Linked DNA regions of Homo sapiens: region 1 is linked to region 2. Evidence: fine-mapped expression QTL. Tissue or cell type: whole blood. Region 2 holds a variant in brackets; the other region holds the start of a gene. All regions are shown on one strand. Distances are from middle to middle.

Region 1 (8,000 bases), 84 kb before region 2:
GAGCGCTGGTTACAGAATTTTCTGGGGCTTAATTTTTTTATTTTTTTGAGGCGGAGTCTTGTTCTGTCACCCAGGCTGGAGTGCGGTGGCACATTCTTGGCTCACTGCAACCTACACCTCCCAGGTTCAAGCAATTCTCCTGCTTCAGCCTCCCCAATAGCTGGGATTACAGGCCCACACCACACCTGGCTAATTTTTGTAATTTTAGTAGAGATAGGGTTTCACCATGTCGGTTGGCCAGGCTAGTCTGGAACTCCTAACCTTGTGATCCACCCTCCTCAGCCTCCCAAAGTGGTGGGATTACAGGTGTGAGCCATCGTGCAGCATGGGGTTTAAATAGCCTCTAGAGGTTTCCCATTGGTTACTTGGTTACACCCTATGTAAATGAAGGAGTGGCCCGTCACAAGTCTGACTGATCATGGGAGGTGACCAATCAGAGTCTGAAGTGACGGTAGTTACAAAGTTACACATGAAGACTTGGCCTGCAACCAGTCTGAATGGTTGTGGGAGGGGACCAATCAGAGGTACTTTCCATTTTTCATTTGCAGTGCAGTGCAAAGGGAGTAGCCTCTGATCCTTTCGTTACATTCGTGTGAAGAGGTGGGGTTTCCCCTCTGATTCAGTTCTAGGAAGTCAGTGAGAATTGGCCTTAGGTTCCCTGCCTCTAGACCCTATTCTCCTGTCTCATTTTCCCGCTGTGAGACATGATCCCCATAAATCTTTATGGGAGGCAGAGGGACCAATGGTCTTTCTTCTGTAACTGCTTCATGCTGACTTGGGGTGCGGTGCCTACCTATTTGGGATCACAGAACTCTCACTCTGCTCTGTCTAGTGGATACAGGGTAGCTTCTTGATGGCCAGTAGTGGTGTCTTCACCTGAACTGGCTGGAAACCTTGTTGCATGATCATCTGAAGCTTGATGGTCTCTAGGCGAGAGGAAATTAATTTGGTTAATGTATTTAATAAATATGGTCCAAAAACCAAGGCAAGTATAATTAACAACGAGCCAGTCAGAGGAAGGACTCATGAACCCCTAATTAGCATTTTTGAACAGGAGGACCACGACTTGGACAGCTGTTGTCGTATCTTAGAAGCCTGGTCAGCTAATTTCTGGGTGGCATCCCTTACTAATTCTAATTGGTTGACATAAAAACAGCATTCTTCCTCTAGAAAAAGACATAAGCCACCTTTTCCAGCAGTTAGGAGATCCAGTCCCCTTCTATTTTGTAAAGCAACTGCTGCCAAGGAGTCTGTTTGAGTTTGTGTTGTGACGATACTTTGGGCAATGTCATCCAAGCTTTCCACAAAATCCTTGGAAAGTGCTGGTAACAGTATAGGGAAGTTGCAAGCCCGGTAACTCCCGTTCCTGCTCTCACTGTTATTCCTAGCCCAACAAAAAGGCGTTTGAGTTGGATTGCTCATTTGTGTCTGGCGGTTGCAGTTAAAGGTATAATGAGGGATTGGTTGTTGAGAGCTCTCCCTCTCTCTCTCTAAATATATATATATATATACACATATATATATAGTTTGTTTGTTTTGAGACAGTCTCCCTCTGTCACCCAGGCTGGAGCACAGTGGCTCAGTCTTGGCTCACTGCAACCTCTGTCTCCAGGGTTCAAGTGATTCTCCTGTCTCAGTCTCCAGAGTAGCTGGGATTACAGGTGTGCGCCACCATACCCGGCTAATTTTTTGTATTTTTAGTAGAAACAGGGTTTCAGCATGTTGGCCAGGCTGGTCTCGAACTCCTGACCTCAGGTGATCCGCCTGCCTCGGCCTCCCAAAGTGCTGGGATTATAGGCGTGAGAAACTGCGCCCGGCCGGGAGCTATATTGATTTCGGAGGCTAAAAACCAAGTGTACAGGTTCCAGTCCAATTGGCTGGTAAACACAGTAGGAACTGGTGCTGCACAGGGAAAAGGTTCCTTGTTTTTCAAGACAAAAATTGTTTTCCATGGTGAACATGTGGGTTAGCTTGTTGTTTTCACTTTCCCAAGTGGTTAAGTTTCCTACTAAAGTGGCCAAGCGAAAATGTCAACCCAGCTAGTGGGCCCACCTTCACAGTACTTAGACTGTGCATCCTTTAAAGTGCCCTTAACTAGGGATGGTTTCCATGAAAAGCATACAGGTTTTCTAAACGATGCAGTTTGGTTAATTGCATAGCTTACATGATTGTGTGAGGGTTAATTTCTGGGGTGTGGTTGCATTGAAGACTTCAAGTTCCCACGACCTGAACAGAATTTTGGCTTCTTTCAATACAAAGTGGCATCTGGAATTTTAGCTCTGTGTATGTTGATGTTGGGCCCCTAATGGGTTTCTGTGGGAATGCACCCTCAAAAAGGTTGCTCTGATTGGACTGGAGAGGGTTTACTGCTCATCCTGTCATTTTAACCTTTGTCATTTCCATACTTTTGAAGTCTTATAAGTCATCCAGATTCATTAATTCAAAGGGAGTTCCTCCCTGGTAGTTGGAATGATAGGTCATTTTTTTCAAGGACCCAAGATCGGGCTGGGATAGGGATGGCAGTGTATCTGGATGAAGATAGGAGATAAACAAAGCCAACAGTCCTTTGCCAGAGCTGAGCTGGTGGTATTTAACAGTCTTTGCATTAAATTTAAAGTTCTTAATAAATACCCAGAATCTATTAATTGCCAGAGGGGTAAAGTGAAGCTCTGTTGTAAAATAAAGCTGATTCCCTGTATGCGGTGTCCCTGTGTATACTGGGTGTATACTGGGTGTCCATTATGGAACAAAAAAAAAATACTTATTTGCTATTTTGTTCTATAGAATGGGAACTTCAGGGGGTGGATACCTGTGCTGTCAGGAATGCTAGTTATAAAAATGAATTAAAACACTTCATATATTACAAAGGAAGTGATTCCATCTATTTGGACGAAAGCAATTAAACTGCAAAAATATAAAAAATGGCAACTATTATTCAGTCTACAGTAACTATGCAACAAAGACACCAAGGAAAGTTGGTAGGCATTTACGTATCTCACTTAAAACAAGTCTATAAAGTGGTTTATTTTAAGAAGGGTACATTTTAAGAAGGACAAAATCAAAAGCATGGACAAGTGTTGGATGAGCTGATGAGGTTGTGGCAATTTACTTTGTGAATACTGTGAGAGTTTGTCCAACTCGCTGTGCTTAGGTACTAGATGGTGAGGATTTAAAAGGTCAATGAAGTCACAGCAGACCAGCACTCAAACATATTTCTCTTCTATTTCCTACTTTTGAATAAAAATGTCAGAAGTGGGCGGTGGGAAAGGAACAAGCAAAGGAGTAATTATTTGAATAAATTTTTGGCGAAACGTGGGTGTCTGACGGGGAGGCTGTGCGGTGGTGACCAACGCACCCATGCGCTGGGTTTCACAGATGCAGACTGAAGTCCAGGCTCTGCTGCAGATTAACGGGGTGGCCGCCAGCAAGTCAAGTGACTTGCTCTTCTGTGCACTGCATGTACTTGGGTTCCTCTCACAGGTATTCCTGTTTTTCCTCTTTCTTGCTCCAGGTTACACCTCGTGGCGCGGCGCTCTCGGAGAGCCTGTGGAGTGGCCCTGTGTCCCTCCCTGACCCCTGGAGGATTCCGTAAGGTCACAGTCACCGCCTCCATCCCCTACTTGCCATGTCTTCAGGGCTAATGCATAACAATTATCACAATTTACAGCAGCCCCACGCTCTGAAGAGCTTCTGGAGGGGATACTACTCAAGCGGAGGAAGGCAAGACAGGGACCTCCTCCCTCTTCCCGGACCTCTTCTGATAAGGAATATTTGTAGGTGGTTAAGAAAGGCAGCGGGAGGGCGTGAAGGCAAAGACAAGCTTTTTTTCTCGTAGGAACACACATCTTCTGGTCTGGCTGTGTTTCCGGAGGCATTTCCAGAGGACCTAGCGAGGACCAACTTCCGGCTGCGACTTCCGCGTCTTCCGAGTTTCGAGACCTGCTGCTTCCGCCCGGAGTTGTTGTGGGCTCCAGCAGCGAGTAGCCACTTCCGCTAGGAGTCCCTAGCGGCCAGGGCGTGGAAGCGGATTCTGAGGCGGCTTTCTCCTACTGCCCTCCGCTTGCCAACGCGGGACCCGGAGCCCAACGGCAGCGGCGGTCCTTGGGCCTGTGGAGAGGGGTTCTCTGTGGCCGAGTCCTAGGCCTGGTGAACCGCGCGGTGCGGGAGAGGCGCTTGGGCCTCGTCCAGCCCCAGCCCCTGTCTCCCCGCGGCCGGTGCCGGCGGCTGTAGGCCTCGCCGCGCCCACCCAGCCTGGGGCGGGCCCAGCCTCACCGCCCGGCCCGCCCCGCCCCACGGGCCAGCCCCGCGCCGGGTGTTTCCGCTACTTCCCTGCGGCGGGGTAACCGCCTCGCACCTACCGGGCTCGGTTCCCTGGCTCCGGCCGCGGGGGAGCATGGAGTTTGCGGAGCTGATTAAGACCCCGCGGGTGGACAATGTGGTGCTGCACCGGCCTTTCTACCCGGCTGTCGAGGGCACCCTGTGCCTGACGGGCCACCACTTGATCCTGTCCTCCCGGCAGGACAATACGGAGGAGCTGTGGCTCCTCCATTCAAACATCGACGCCATCGACAAGCGGTGAGTGCCCGCCCCACCCCAGCTCCGCAGGGAGCCGGGGGTCCCTTGTGGGCGCCCCGGGAAATACTTCCTGGCGTTTTCCGCGCAGCCTGCCGCCCAGCTAGCCGGCAAGATGAGCCCTCTGTGGCCTAGAATCAGGATTTACCAAGCTGAAACCCGTCCAGATGGAGGACCCGGTTTCCATTAAACCTGGATGGAGTTCTCAGGGTTATCGTGTGGCTGGTACCATCCTGATGATCATTTCTGGTTCGTAACACCATTTGGGTGGATTTTCGGCATTGTCTTTATAAATTTCTTCTTCTTCTTGCCCCATCGTATTCCTTGAATTGGTATTGTCAGTCACCGTTCATGAAGTGATTGGATGTGATTTAGGTAAAGTCTTTACCATTTCTGAGGAAAACTAAACAGATTATAAAGTTATGAGTGTCTACATGCTACAGAACCATTTTTTTAATTTCTGAAAAATGTTCAGTGTATCATATTATTTCTTACCTTCTGGGTCATCAAAATTTAATTCTCACTAAGGGAGATTCTGATGTCTTCTCTTCATCTTTACTCAATTCTGCTTGCTGAAAGAACAGGGTTGGCTCTCAAGGAAAGGCATGGACCAGTTAACCTCTTTTTTCTTTTTGTACTCCAGACTTTATCTTTCCAAGGCAGTGCCTCGAAGTCAAAAAGTTAAACTTTCATCTGCATTCAAAATTCCCATCTCCTTAGTGGCTACTCGCTAGCCAGGAGAGGGCAAACTGATTATCCGTTTTACACAGAAGTATAAATGAATGACGACAACATTTTCTATTGCCTCACAGGATAATTTGGATATTAGGAAGATTCGTACAGAGGATATGCCTTAAAATAATAATCTCTTTCTTTCTTTCTTTTTTTTTTTTTTTTTTTTTTGGAGACGAAATCTCACTGTATTGCCCAGGCTGGAGTGCGGTGGCCAATCTCGGCTCACTGTAACCTCCACCTCCCAGGTTCTAGCGATTCTTCTGTCTCAGCCTCCCGAGTAGCTGGGATTACAGGCACGCGCCACCACACCCGGCTAATTTTTGTATTTTTTAGTAGAGATGGGGTTTCACCATATTGACCAGGCTGGTCTTGAACTCCTGACCTCGCAATCCTCCCGCCTAGGCCTCCCACAGTTCTGGGATTACAGGCGTGAGCCACTGCGCCTGGCCTAAAATAAAAATTTCTAATGGTAGAATTGCAGGCAGTTTGGGTGAAGCCATGGTAGATTGATTGATTGATATGAGCAGGGGGCTCTTATTAGTCTCCTCAAGCCACCTTTTGCTGTATAAAGTCTTCAGTGGGCCCGGCACGGTGGCTCACGCCTGTAATCCCAGCACTTTGGGAGGCCAAGGTGAGCGGATCACCTGAGGTTAGGAGTTTGAGACCAGCCTGACCAACATGATGAAAGCCCGTCTCTACTAAAAATACAAAAAATTAACCGGGCATAGTGGCAGGTGCCTGTAATCCCAGTTACTCAGGAGGCTGAGGCGGAAAAATCGCTTGAACCTTGGAAGCAGAGGTTGCAGTGAGCCGAGATCGGGCCACTGCACTCCTTCCTTTGCAACAAGAGCAAAACTCCATCTCAAAAAAAAAAAAAAAAAAAAAAAAAGTCTTCAGTGGTCTCTCATTGAAAATCTAAACCCCTCAGTCATTCATGGCATTCTGTGTCTCGGCCCTATCCTACTTTCTCACTTTATTTCTTGCCATTTCTTTTAACGAGCCTTTCTTGCACTTGCTTTCATGAACGCTTTTTACCAGCCAGTCCTCACTATTTACTGGTGCTGGTATATGTCCTGTATTCTGTCATCTGTGTATTTTATTGACTTCTTCCTTCTGCTGGAATGCCTTGCCTCTCCCAAGTTTGTTTAACATTTGCCAAATGCCTTTATGTTCTGGACGTTTTGTTAGGCATTTAAGACACCAAGGTAAATAAAATATGTTACAGTTCTTGTCTTTCAGGAGTTCACAGGCAATGAGCCTGTTACCTGTCTATGAGTATTCAGTTTAACCATTTCGACCGCTACCTCCTTCACAAATTCTTCTGTTAATTCCACAACTGGAATTCATTTTTATCTCCTTCGAAACGTCTAACTGTGGCTTGGGCATATAGACGCGTAGGAAACAAAAGAAGGATTGACCGCTGAATGGTCAGATGCCGTTGAATACAACTGAGTAGTTTCTCCATGACCATCAACTACCTTTCCTTTCTTATTTACCTTTTATGGTGGTTACTTTGCGCTCATTTGTTTCCTCCTTTTTACCTTGCATTTACAAGGTGCTGGGCTTTGTAGTACATGAAGAAGAAGCAGATGAGCCATGGACCTTTGAATCTGTTAGGAGAGAATGACGAACTGTACACACATTTATCCTTTTCCTGGGAAGCAGCGTGGTGTAGTGAAAGAGCATAGGGGAGGCATCAGATCAGAGTTTGTTAAATTGCTGCTTTCAAGAAATCTTTACATCCACCTGTTTTCCACGTGCATTGTCTGAGCTGTGCGGCTGCAGTGGTGACTAAGACAAGATGCTTAGGTACTGGCCAGGGAGATGGACAATCAAGCAAGTCCAGAAATAAATATATATATTTATTAGATATATTTATATTTATTATGTTTATTATATATTATATATATTATAATATATATTATATATTATATATTATTTTCTTATATATTTATTATTTATTTATTATATATTTATTATATATTATATATAATACATATTATATAATACATATAATATATAATATATAACATTATATATTTTATTATATATGTTATATATTATATTATAATATATAACATATATAATACGTATTATATATAACATAATATGTATTATATATTATATAATATGTGTTATATATCATACGTATTATATACTATGTATTATATATGTATTATATAATATATATTACATATAATACATAGTATATAATACGTATGATATATAATATATATTATATAATACGTATTATATAATATATATTATATTTCACCTATATAATATATATAATTATTCACCTAATTATATTAAATAATTATTCACCTAAATATTCACCTAATTATTCAGCGAATAGGTGAATAATTATTTATTCACCTATTCACCTAATACATGTAATTATTATATATAATATATTAATAATTATAATATATAATAATAATAATTATATTATAATAATTATATATTATAATATAGTATAATATAGCATATAATATATATTATAATATGTATATATAATATATATACATAAATATATAATATATTTATATATATATAATATATATATAATGATGTCAGGTAATAAGGGCCAGGAAGGAAAGTAACGGAAGATGAGAGGATAAAGAGCACTGGGAGGCAGTTTCCTTAGAAAGGATTTCAGAGAAGGCAGGTGACATCTGACTACAGACCGGAAT
Region 2 (8,263 bases):
GACTATGCAGTCCAGATTTTCCATGATGCCACAAAGCATGGCAAATTCGAGTGCAACCTGGAAGCCTGCACGAGACTGCCCATGATGTACATTGACGACTGCCTCAGAGCCACCCTGGAGGTCATGGAGGCCCCAGCTGAGTCCCTTTCCATGAGGACCTACAATGTCAGCGCCATGAGCTTCACACCCGAGGAGCTGGCCCAGGAGGTCCTCAAGCACGTGCCGGAATTCCAGATCACATACAACGTGGATGCCGTTCGCCAGGCCATAGGTTCGTACCCGGTGGCAAAGGCCTTTACTGTGAGTCCCTGGAGAATGTAAACCTTGGAAGGTTGAAGAGAGCATAGATCCTTCCCAAGGGTCCAGACACCTTTTGGAGAAGGAGCCTAGCCCAAGAAATTGTTGAGCCCAAGCTAGCAGATGCTTTGATTTTGGGGAATGATATCTAAAGTGGGTGAAATCATTCCATTCCAAATAAACAGCTTGTTAGCCTTTCATCATTTTTACAGTTTAAACATAAAGCAAGGAAAAATAGAAGCAACAGAGGTAGTATGAAAACAGCCCCAGGTTTTCAAATACTGTAACTTTGCCAATTTGTGGATGGAAGCACCTCTTTGAGTATAAAACTTCTTATGAAGTTGTGTGAGATTTTGATAATGTGTGAAAATTCACAGTGCCTGACGAAAGATGGGTTAATAGTCTTCGGCCCTAGGAGGGTGACTGTGCATAATGGCGGTTCTGCTTTACTCGAAGGAATTTCCTGTTTTGTACCTTGTACGGTAGACCTTTATATACAATGGTCAAGACCTTTTTGCAAATCCACAACCTGAATAACTTAAGCTAGTCTTGCGTATCTTTTCCTAGCGGATGGTTGGCCGATGAACTTTGATGACAGCAATGCTCGGAAGGACTGGGGGTGGAAACACGACTTTGATCTTCCAGAGTTGGTGACTGCCATGTTGAACTTCCATGGTTCTGAAAGCAGAGTTGCCCAAGCCAACTGAAAGAATCTGGAAGAGGAGCTCCTGTGTCCTGGTCCACTGTCAAGGGAGAACTGTCACAACTCCAAGGTTATAGACTCCAAGGAGCCTACATTATTTGGAACTGACTCATTGGACTAAATTTTGGCAGCTCATATTGAACTGCTAGACAAAGAATGGAGTTAACATTTAAGCATTTTCAGAATGTTGTAGGTATGGTGGTGGGACTTTTCAGTTTTTGCTGTTTGCCTGAACTTGTCTAAACACATTCCACAGAATAAGGCTTAAGTCATCATTAGTTTCCATTTCCTTAATTAGGATGAAGTGACTATTTCTGGGAAGCTGGGAGTATGTGACATTTGTGTTTAATTAAATTCAATTTAAATATTCCTCTTAAGACTCGATTATTCTCTTGACTAAAGACCAAAGATTACATTTTAAGGACTTTCAAAGAGGTACTCCTCATTTATAAGTATTCTTTACTATCCCAGCGAAAGTAAAACATGTTTGGTGTATTCATCCCATGTCTATCACATTCAAGATATTTTGACACTGCTTCAAAAATTATAATTTCTGGTTTTTCTGTAAGATGCTAGATCTGTGGGAAATTAAGAATTCAAAGATGATGTAACCAGCGAAGGGTAGCCCTGCTCTTATTTTGATTGCCCTCCTATTAGTGAGCTAAATGTAATTCCCAGGAACATAATTCCCTGACCTGGCAACATCAGCATCTAGGGAGATTGTCTAATACACAGGTTTCTGGGCTACATCCCTTTAGATTCACTCATTAAGTGCCAGGTGCCACTGGTTATTTGAATCCAGCTGAGGCCCACTAGTCAGACCAGTTTAGACCAATGCAGTTTTCTAAAGAGCACTTTCTTGTTGCATCTTTTTTTTTTAAGATATTCCTGGGTTGAGCTTTCAGAAGGGCTACTCTAAACCCTCTGATGCAATTACCGTATAGATACATACAGGTTAACTTTTTAAGTTGAAGTTAGGCCAAATCAATTTCTGATTGTATTTTATGGTAAGGGAATGAGTGTGTTCAGAAAATGCTTTCAATCCGGTCATTTAAAAAAATATTTCTGGTGCAATACTGTATAGACACGTACAGGTTAACTTTTTTCCAGCGACCTCGGAATGTACTGCATGTAAAATCACTAGGAAGTGAAACTTCCAGTTCCACAGATTAATCATGGATATATTTGATAACAGCTATCAAGGATTAAAAGGCGTTTATTTATGTTGCATGCTTAATAACAAAATGTTATGCATTTGGAGTTTTGAACTGTTAGGTCAAAGCGTGGATTTTTTTGAAGGCATAACTGGATTTAAAATCTATTTGACTATTAACTGGAGAACTTTTAGGTAATTGAATTGTTTAACAGTTACATTACTGTAGCTTTTTCCTCCACTTAATAAGGTTTATGTTTGTAGATTTTATTTTTTTGTTATTTTTCTTTTGGGCTGCTCTTGAGAGGCAGGAAGATTTTATTTTTTAAAATCAGAAAGTTAGTAATGAATTCTTTTTTTGAAAGTTTGAGATATAGTTTACATACCATAAAATTCACTCATTTATAGTTCTGTGGTTTTCAATGTATTAAAAAGTTTTGCAACCATCACTATAATCTAATTTTAGGCCATTTCATCACCCCACAAAGAAATCATATTATATAAGCCCTTCCCACCCTCGGCAACCACTAATGTACTTCTTCTGTCCCTGGGTTTGTCTGTTCTGAGCATTTTATGTAAGTGGAATGTGGTTGTCTTTTAGTGGCTTCTTTAATTAAGCAGTCCATTTTCAAGGTTCATCCATGTTTTAGCATGTATCACTACTTCATTTTTTATTGCTAAGTAATATTCCATTGTATGAGTAATCCTCTTATTTTCTCTATCCATTCATCCATTGAGGGACATTTAGGTTTTTTGCACTTTTTAAGCTATTATGAATAATGCTGCTGTGAACATTTGGGTAGATAATTGAGTTTTAAAATGATTGCTTACTGTTTATAGTTTAAAAAACAGTTCTTAAGTTTGATTAATTTATTCTCAGTTATCTTAAAGGAACAAGCAATTCTTCCCTTTCATAAGATAAGAAGCAGCAACTCGAGTGACCTTTGTCTCCTAGACCCTAACCTTCCAGCATTTCTACCAGGCTCCTAGAATGACCTTTAATTC[G/A]GATCATTTGGAGGGGTTTGTTCCAAACAGGTTCCTTGAATCTTTCCCAATCTGTAAACACACCTCCAGGAGATCTCAAATAAGAGTGAAAAAATAATGAATGCTTCAGCTTCTTTGGATGATTCTTATTCACTGACATCTTTGTACTCCAAGACTAGAATTAGAGTTGTCCCTTCTGTCTGAACACTCAGTATCTGGTGCACATCTTGGGATCCCGGAGCCCATCAATGTTTTCCTGTAAAATGCTTTCCGTTCTGTTGGGAGAAAGGGTTTTTTATGATTAATTTGGAAATAACCCAAAAAGCTATTTGAAGGAAAAGTGGGTTTAACCACAAAAATAGTTTATTTATAAATAAAAAAGAAAGAATACAAAGATTGGCTTTGTTCTGATGTTTTACACAGGCTACCGGTGGTTATTAGTTTTCTGCTCACATGTTTGTGTGTGGCGTTGCTGGGATGTGCCTTGTGTTGCTACACAAACAGCGATCCCGAAGTCTGCCAGCAAGATAGATGGCCTGGAGTCCAGAACAGACTGGATTAGTGAAAGCTACTGCAGTGCTTTGGACACTTACTATGGTAGGTGGGAGATATTTAGTATTTTTTAATTCACATAGGCCAAATCACCAATTTGTGATTGTATTTTATGGTAAGGGTGTTCAGAAAATGCTTTAAATTCTGTCATTTTAAAAAAATGTTTATTAAGAGTTCAGACAATTTAAAAGATATATAATAAAGTTGTCTTCCCCTCCAAACCCAATCAATAACATGTTAGCAGTGTAGTGTGGGACCCAGTGCAGTGGCTCACACCTGTAATCAGTACTTTAGGAGGCTGAGGCAGGAGGATTGCTTAAAGCCAGGAGTTCAAGACCAGCCTGGACAACATAGCAAGACTCTCATCTCTACAAAAATAATTTAAGCCAGATGTGGTGATGCACACCTGTAGCTGCTACTCACGTGGCTGAAGCTGAGGGATCACTTGTAGCCAGGAGTTTGAGGCTGCAATGAGCTATGCTTGCGCCACCATACTCCAGCCTGAGCCACAGAGCGAGACCATCTCAAACAACAACACACAAAAAAACTAGTGTATACCTTTTATTTTCTCCTGTGCTTATACAATCTAGGAGTGGAAGGTGAAACCTTTTTCTTTTCTTTTACTATAAAAGTAGTGCTAAGACAATATTGTCAAAAGTTTTGGAAAAGACTCACTTTCAATTTTTGCCATGTCACATGGTAGCTGTTTTAAAATATTCTCCAGTCCTCTATGCGTTACAAAGAACTTACATGTAGTTTTAACATTTGCCATTTAAAGATAGCTGCATAACTCGTTGAATGGAGTATCATAATGATGTCATTCTATTTAATTGCTGAAACCTAGAAGTACAATTACTGGGTCACAGGGCGTAAACACCTACTTGCCTCTTCATTTTATGTGGTCAAATTTATCTTCGGAACGAGTTGGATTAATTTGTGATGAAATTCTCGACCATCAACACCTTCCTCTTGGCACATATTCATGGACCTCAGTATGGTTTACATTTGTTGAAAAGTTTTATTTTTGTGGCTGGGTGCAATGACTCATACTTGTAATCCCAGCACTTTTGGGAGGCTGAGGCAACAGGATCAGTTGAAAGTTTTATTTTTCTAAAAGGTTTGAAGAATATAAACTTCATTTTTTGCTGGAGAATCTTAACATTCTAATACAAGAGCCGTGAGTGAATAAATCCTAGATCTCACATAACCGGATGATAACTGCCTCTAAATCAGTGAATTGCTTCCAAAAATCACCGGTGAGAAAGGAATCTTGTTTTTTAATGATTTTTTTTTAGGGTAGTCACTTTAAAAAAAATTATTTCATGGCACTGTTTTTATAGCTTTAGTATGTTTGTCTATAAGGTAGCTAAACAGGCCACCCCTTACCTTCCAATGTGAAGATCCCAGAAAACTTTTTTTTAGCCAACTTACATATATAAAGTTTAGGATTGTAGATGAGAGGATAAAATAGACACCTGTACTATTAGTTGCAGGTGTTTCAGATTTGTTAATCTATTAACCAGCATGTGGGCTTTCCCTCTTCACATTCGCATTTCAGGCATGTCACTCCGACTTCGTATTTGATCTTGGTGCCCCCTTTGGCATCCCCTAATAGGTTAAGAGCAGATGATCTTTTTTCTTTCTAAGTTGTTTGGGATGCAGCAGTTTCGGGGTCTATGTATGATGCTGTTGGTGGACATTTATCCCAAGCCACAAGTATGCCTGTGTGTAGGTAGCACTAGGGCAGCTGCTTTTCAGAATCCACAGAGCATTGCTTTCGATTTTTAACAGGCTTCTTTCCAGTGACACCAAATACTTGTAACTGTAGCTTTATAATCCTAGAGACCGTGACTGTTAATGTGCCTCCTTTACAACTTATCCTACCAGCCACAATATTAGCATTGCTTAAGGTTGTTTGAGGCTAATAATGTTTCCACAGAACAATAACTTGTATTCTTTTCAGGTTACCGACAGCATTTAGTATATCCTGAAAGAGTGTAATGTTTCAAATATAAGGTGAGCATCCCTAAGGGGATAGTTTCGGGAGATAACTCTGCCTTATTTTGGGAGTATATGTGATACCTTGTCTGTTGATCCATTTGTCTGAAGTCCTTAAGAAAAGCTTTTCTCTTTTGTTAAAAGGTCAAAAATTTAAAAATTATTTTGCCCAGTTCTTTCTTTACGCTGTAAGTACAATTCTTCTGTACCTACATTGCTGTAAGAAGTTTAAATATAATTTGTAATTTAAGTTGTAGTATGAAAGAATGAACCAGAACAAGTAGCTGCCTCCAAGGTTGTACTTTCCCAATTTTTTAATATTCAAGGCACCTAGAAAATGTATCATTAAAAATATGTTATTAAAATATGCTGTTATTTGTAATACACACTATTATTTTTATGTTCTAAGAAAGGAAGAAAACTTGCATTTAAATAGACACAATGGCCAAGTGCAGTGGCTGATGCCTGTAATCCCAGCACTTTGAGAGGCTGAGGGAGGAGGATCGCTTGAGTCCAGGAGTTCAAGACCAGCCTGGGCAACACAGGGAGACCCTGTCTCTACAAAAATTGGCTGGGTGTCATGGTGTGAGCCTGTAGTCCCAGCTAGTTGGGAGGCTGAGGTGGGAGGATAACTTCAGCCCAGGAGGCAGAGGCTGAAGTGACTATGATCAGAGCATTGCACTCCACCCTGGGCAACAGAGCCAGACCCTATCTCTGAAAAAAACAAAAGAAAAAAGAAACAGAACGCTTTCTTGTTGTTTGGACTTTTTACTTTGTATCCCATTGAGGAGCTCTTTGAGACTTTGCTAGATGCAGATGTTATCACTTGCGCATCTGTAGAAACGGATCTAGAAATGTATGTTTGTTTGTTTTCCTGAAACTTCGGGTTTTGCTTTTCTGAATCACTTTTTGACTCAGTGGTTGGTGTCTCTGGTTTTTCCACCCAGTGTTGTTCTCTGTGCCAGTATGAGTTTTATGTCAGAGCACTCCTTAAAAGAATTCATAAAACCTAAAAGTCACTGGCACTGTAAACCAGCTTTATAGTTACGCCAATCTCGCCTACTTTTGACACCTGCTTTAGGAATGTGCTAACTCTATTTGGTTTGCCCAAAACCTTAAACTCTTTGGTTCCTAGGAGTTACAATGATGGCTGAATGTTTCTCCTGGCCTCTGACACCCACTGCGCAGGGTTCAGTGCTGTGTTTGGAAGGTGCCTATGTCACCAATAGGCAATGCTAGCACTATTACAATCACAACCTGTACAAAAGAAGTTGTAGGATAATCCTGATTTCAAATACGTAAAAATCTGGAAGAAAATGTGAGTCTTAGCAGAGGGTGAGATGTGGTTGCATTTGCAACCACTAGTGTGCCAGGGCAGTCCCCGCCCTGCTCAGACTGCTACCTCGAGGGCTGAAACGATCCCAGGAAAGCTCAGCAGTAGATGGTCACTGCAGGGCTCACACCTTCCTTTCGCATGGCTGGGGAGGGGGGCGTTAGCAGATGTGGTGGGCACTAAAGGAGTTGCTAAGGTTGGCAGCAAAGTGCCAGGCCTCATGGGAGAAAAGAGGAGATGGGATATGAGCTGCCAGGAGACAACGGTTGGGAAGAGCAGATTGTCCCATGGGGGGTTAGGTCCTGTGTGGTTCCTAGGATGCGATCCATCCTTTTTGTTCCATAAAATGTTAGGCGATGCTTTCGTGTCCCATTAGTGGAGCTGCAGCACCGGAGGCTGCTGCAGAGGGCTGGAAGGGACCGTGAGTAGGTAGGCGGGGCAGGGCTCCCCACTCTCTTGATCACACCACCGTCTTCTGAGTTATAAAAGGAAGAAAGACTTGTTGTTTCTAGAATATTTTGTTAAAGATACAGTGCTCATCTACCAAGGCGTCTAGATCTCAGATTATGTGTCAAGATGAAACCAAAAATCTTCAAGAAAAATTTATGCTGCATAGTCCTTTTCCCTCCCCTCCCCCCGCCAGGACAGGGTCTTGCTCTGTCACCCAGGCTGGAATGTAATGGTGCAATCTTGGCTCACTGCAACCTCTGCCTCCCAGGTTCAAGCGATTCTCCTGCCTCAGCCTCCAGAGTAGCTGGGATTACAGGCACACACCACCACACCCAACTAATTTTTGTATTTTTACTAGAGACAGGGTTTCGCCATGTTGGCCAGGCTGGTCTTGAACTCCTGGCCTCAGGTGATCCATCTGCCTCGGCCTCCCAATGTGCTGGAATTACAGACGTGATTCACCGTGCATGGCCAGTACTTTTTCAGTATTATCTGAAATTAACAACCTGAGAGGTTGAGGTCCCATTTTAAGTATCTACCTACTTTCTTTTTAAGTTTTTAATTAATTTTTTTAAATGTAAGAATTTTACATGGTAAAATTCAGGCAGCACAAATGGGTAAATACAGTGAAAAGTGTGTCTGTCCTTCAGCTGCCCTCTCCAGAGGCAACCATGACTGGGTGCAGATTTGCACATTCAGCTACATATATACCTATTTATGTGTGTGTGTGTGTATGTGTGTGTATTTCCCTTATTTTTCTAAAGCATGAATATTATGTACATTCCTTTTTCAC

Evidence for each region. PIP is the estimated chance that this variant, and not a neighbour inherited with it, causes the effect.
Region 1: MTMR9 starts here. The variant in region 2 is fine-mapped to the expression of MTMR9 in whole blood (TOPMed, PIP 0.99). The same link has a PIP of 0.9 or more in neutrophils.

The regions. Positions count from the first base shown.
Region 1 is chr8:11,280,496-11,288,495 of GRCh38, forward strand. MTMR9 (myotubularin related protein 9) reads left to right here and starts at 4,321. Exons shown (of 10, transcript NM_015458.4): 1 at 4,321-4,575. The coding sequence starts at 4,394. LINC00529 (long intergenic non-protein coding RNA 529) reads right to left here and starts at 3,536. Exons shown (of 5, transcript NR_170283.1): 1 at 3,356-3,536; 2 at 794-926. RefSeq lists silencers at 458-507, 4,000-4,409 and enhancers at 3,290-3,379, 3,470-3,529, 3,805-4,306.
Region 2 is chr8:11,364,719-11,372,981 of GRCh38, forward strand. FAM167A-AS1 (FAM167A antisense RNA 1) reads left to right here and starts at 3,684. Exons shown (of 7, transcript NR_026814.1): 1 at 3,684-3,734. It also overlaps the pseudogene TDH. The variant G/A (reference allele first, on the strand shown) is at 3,159.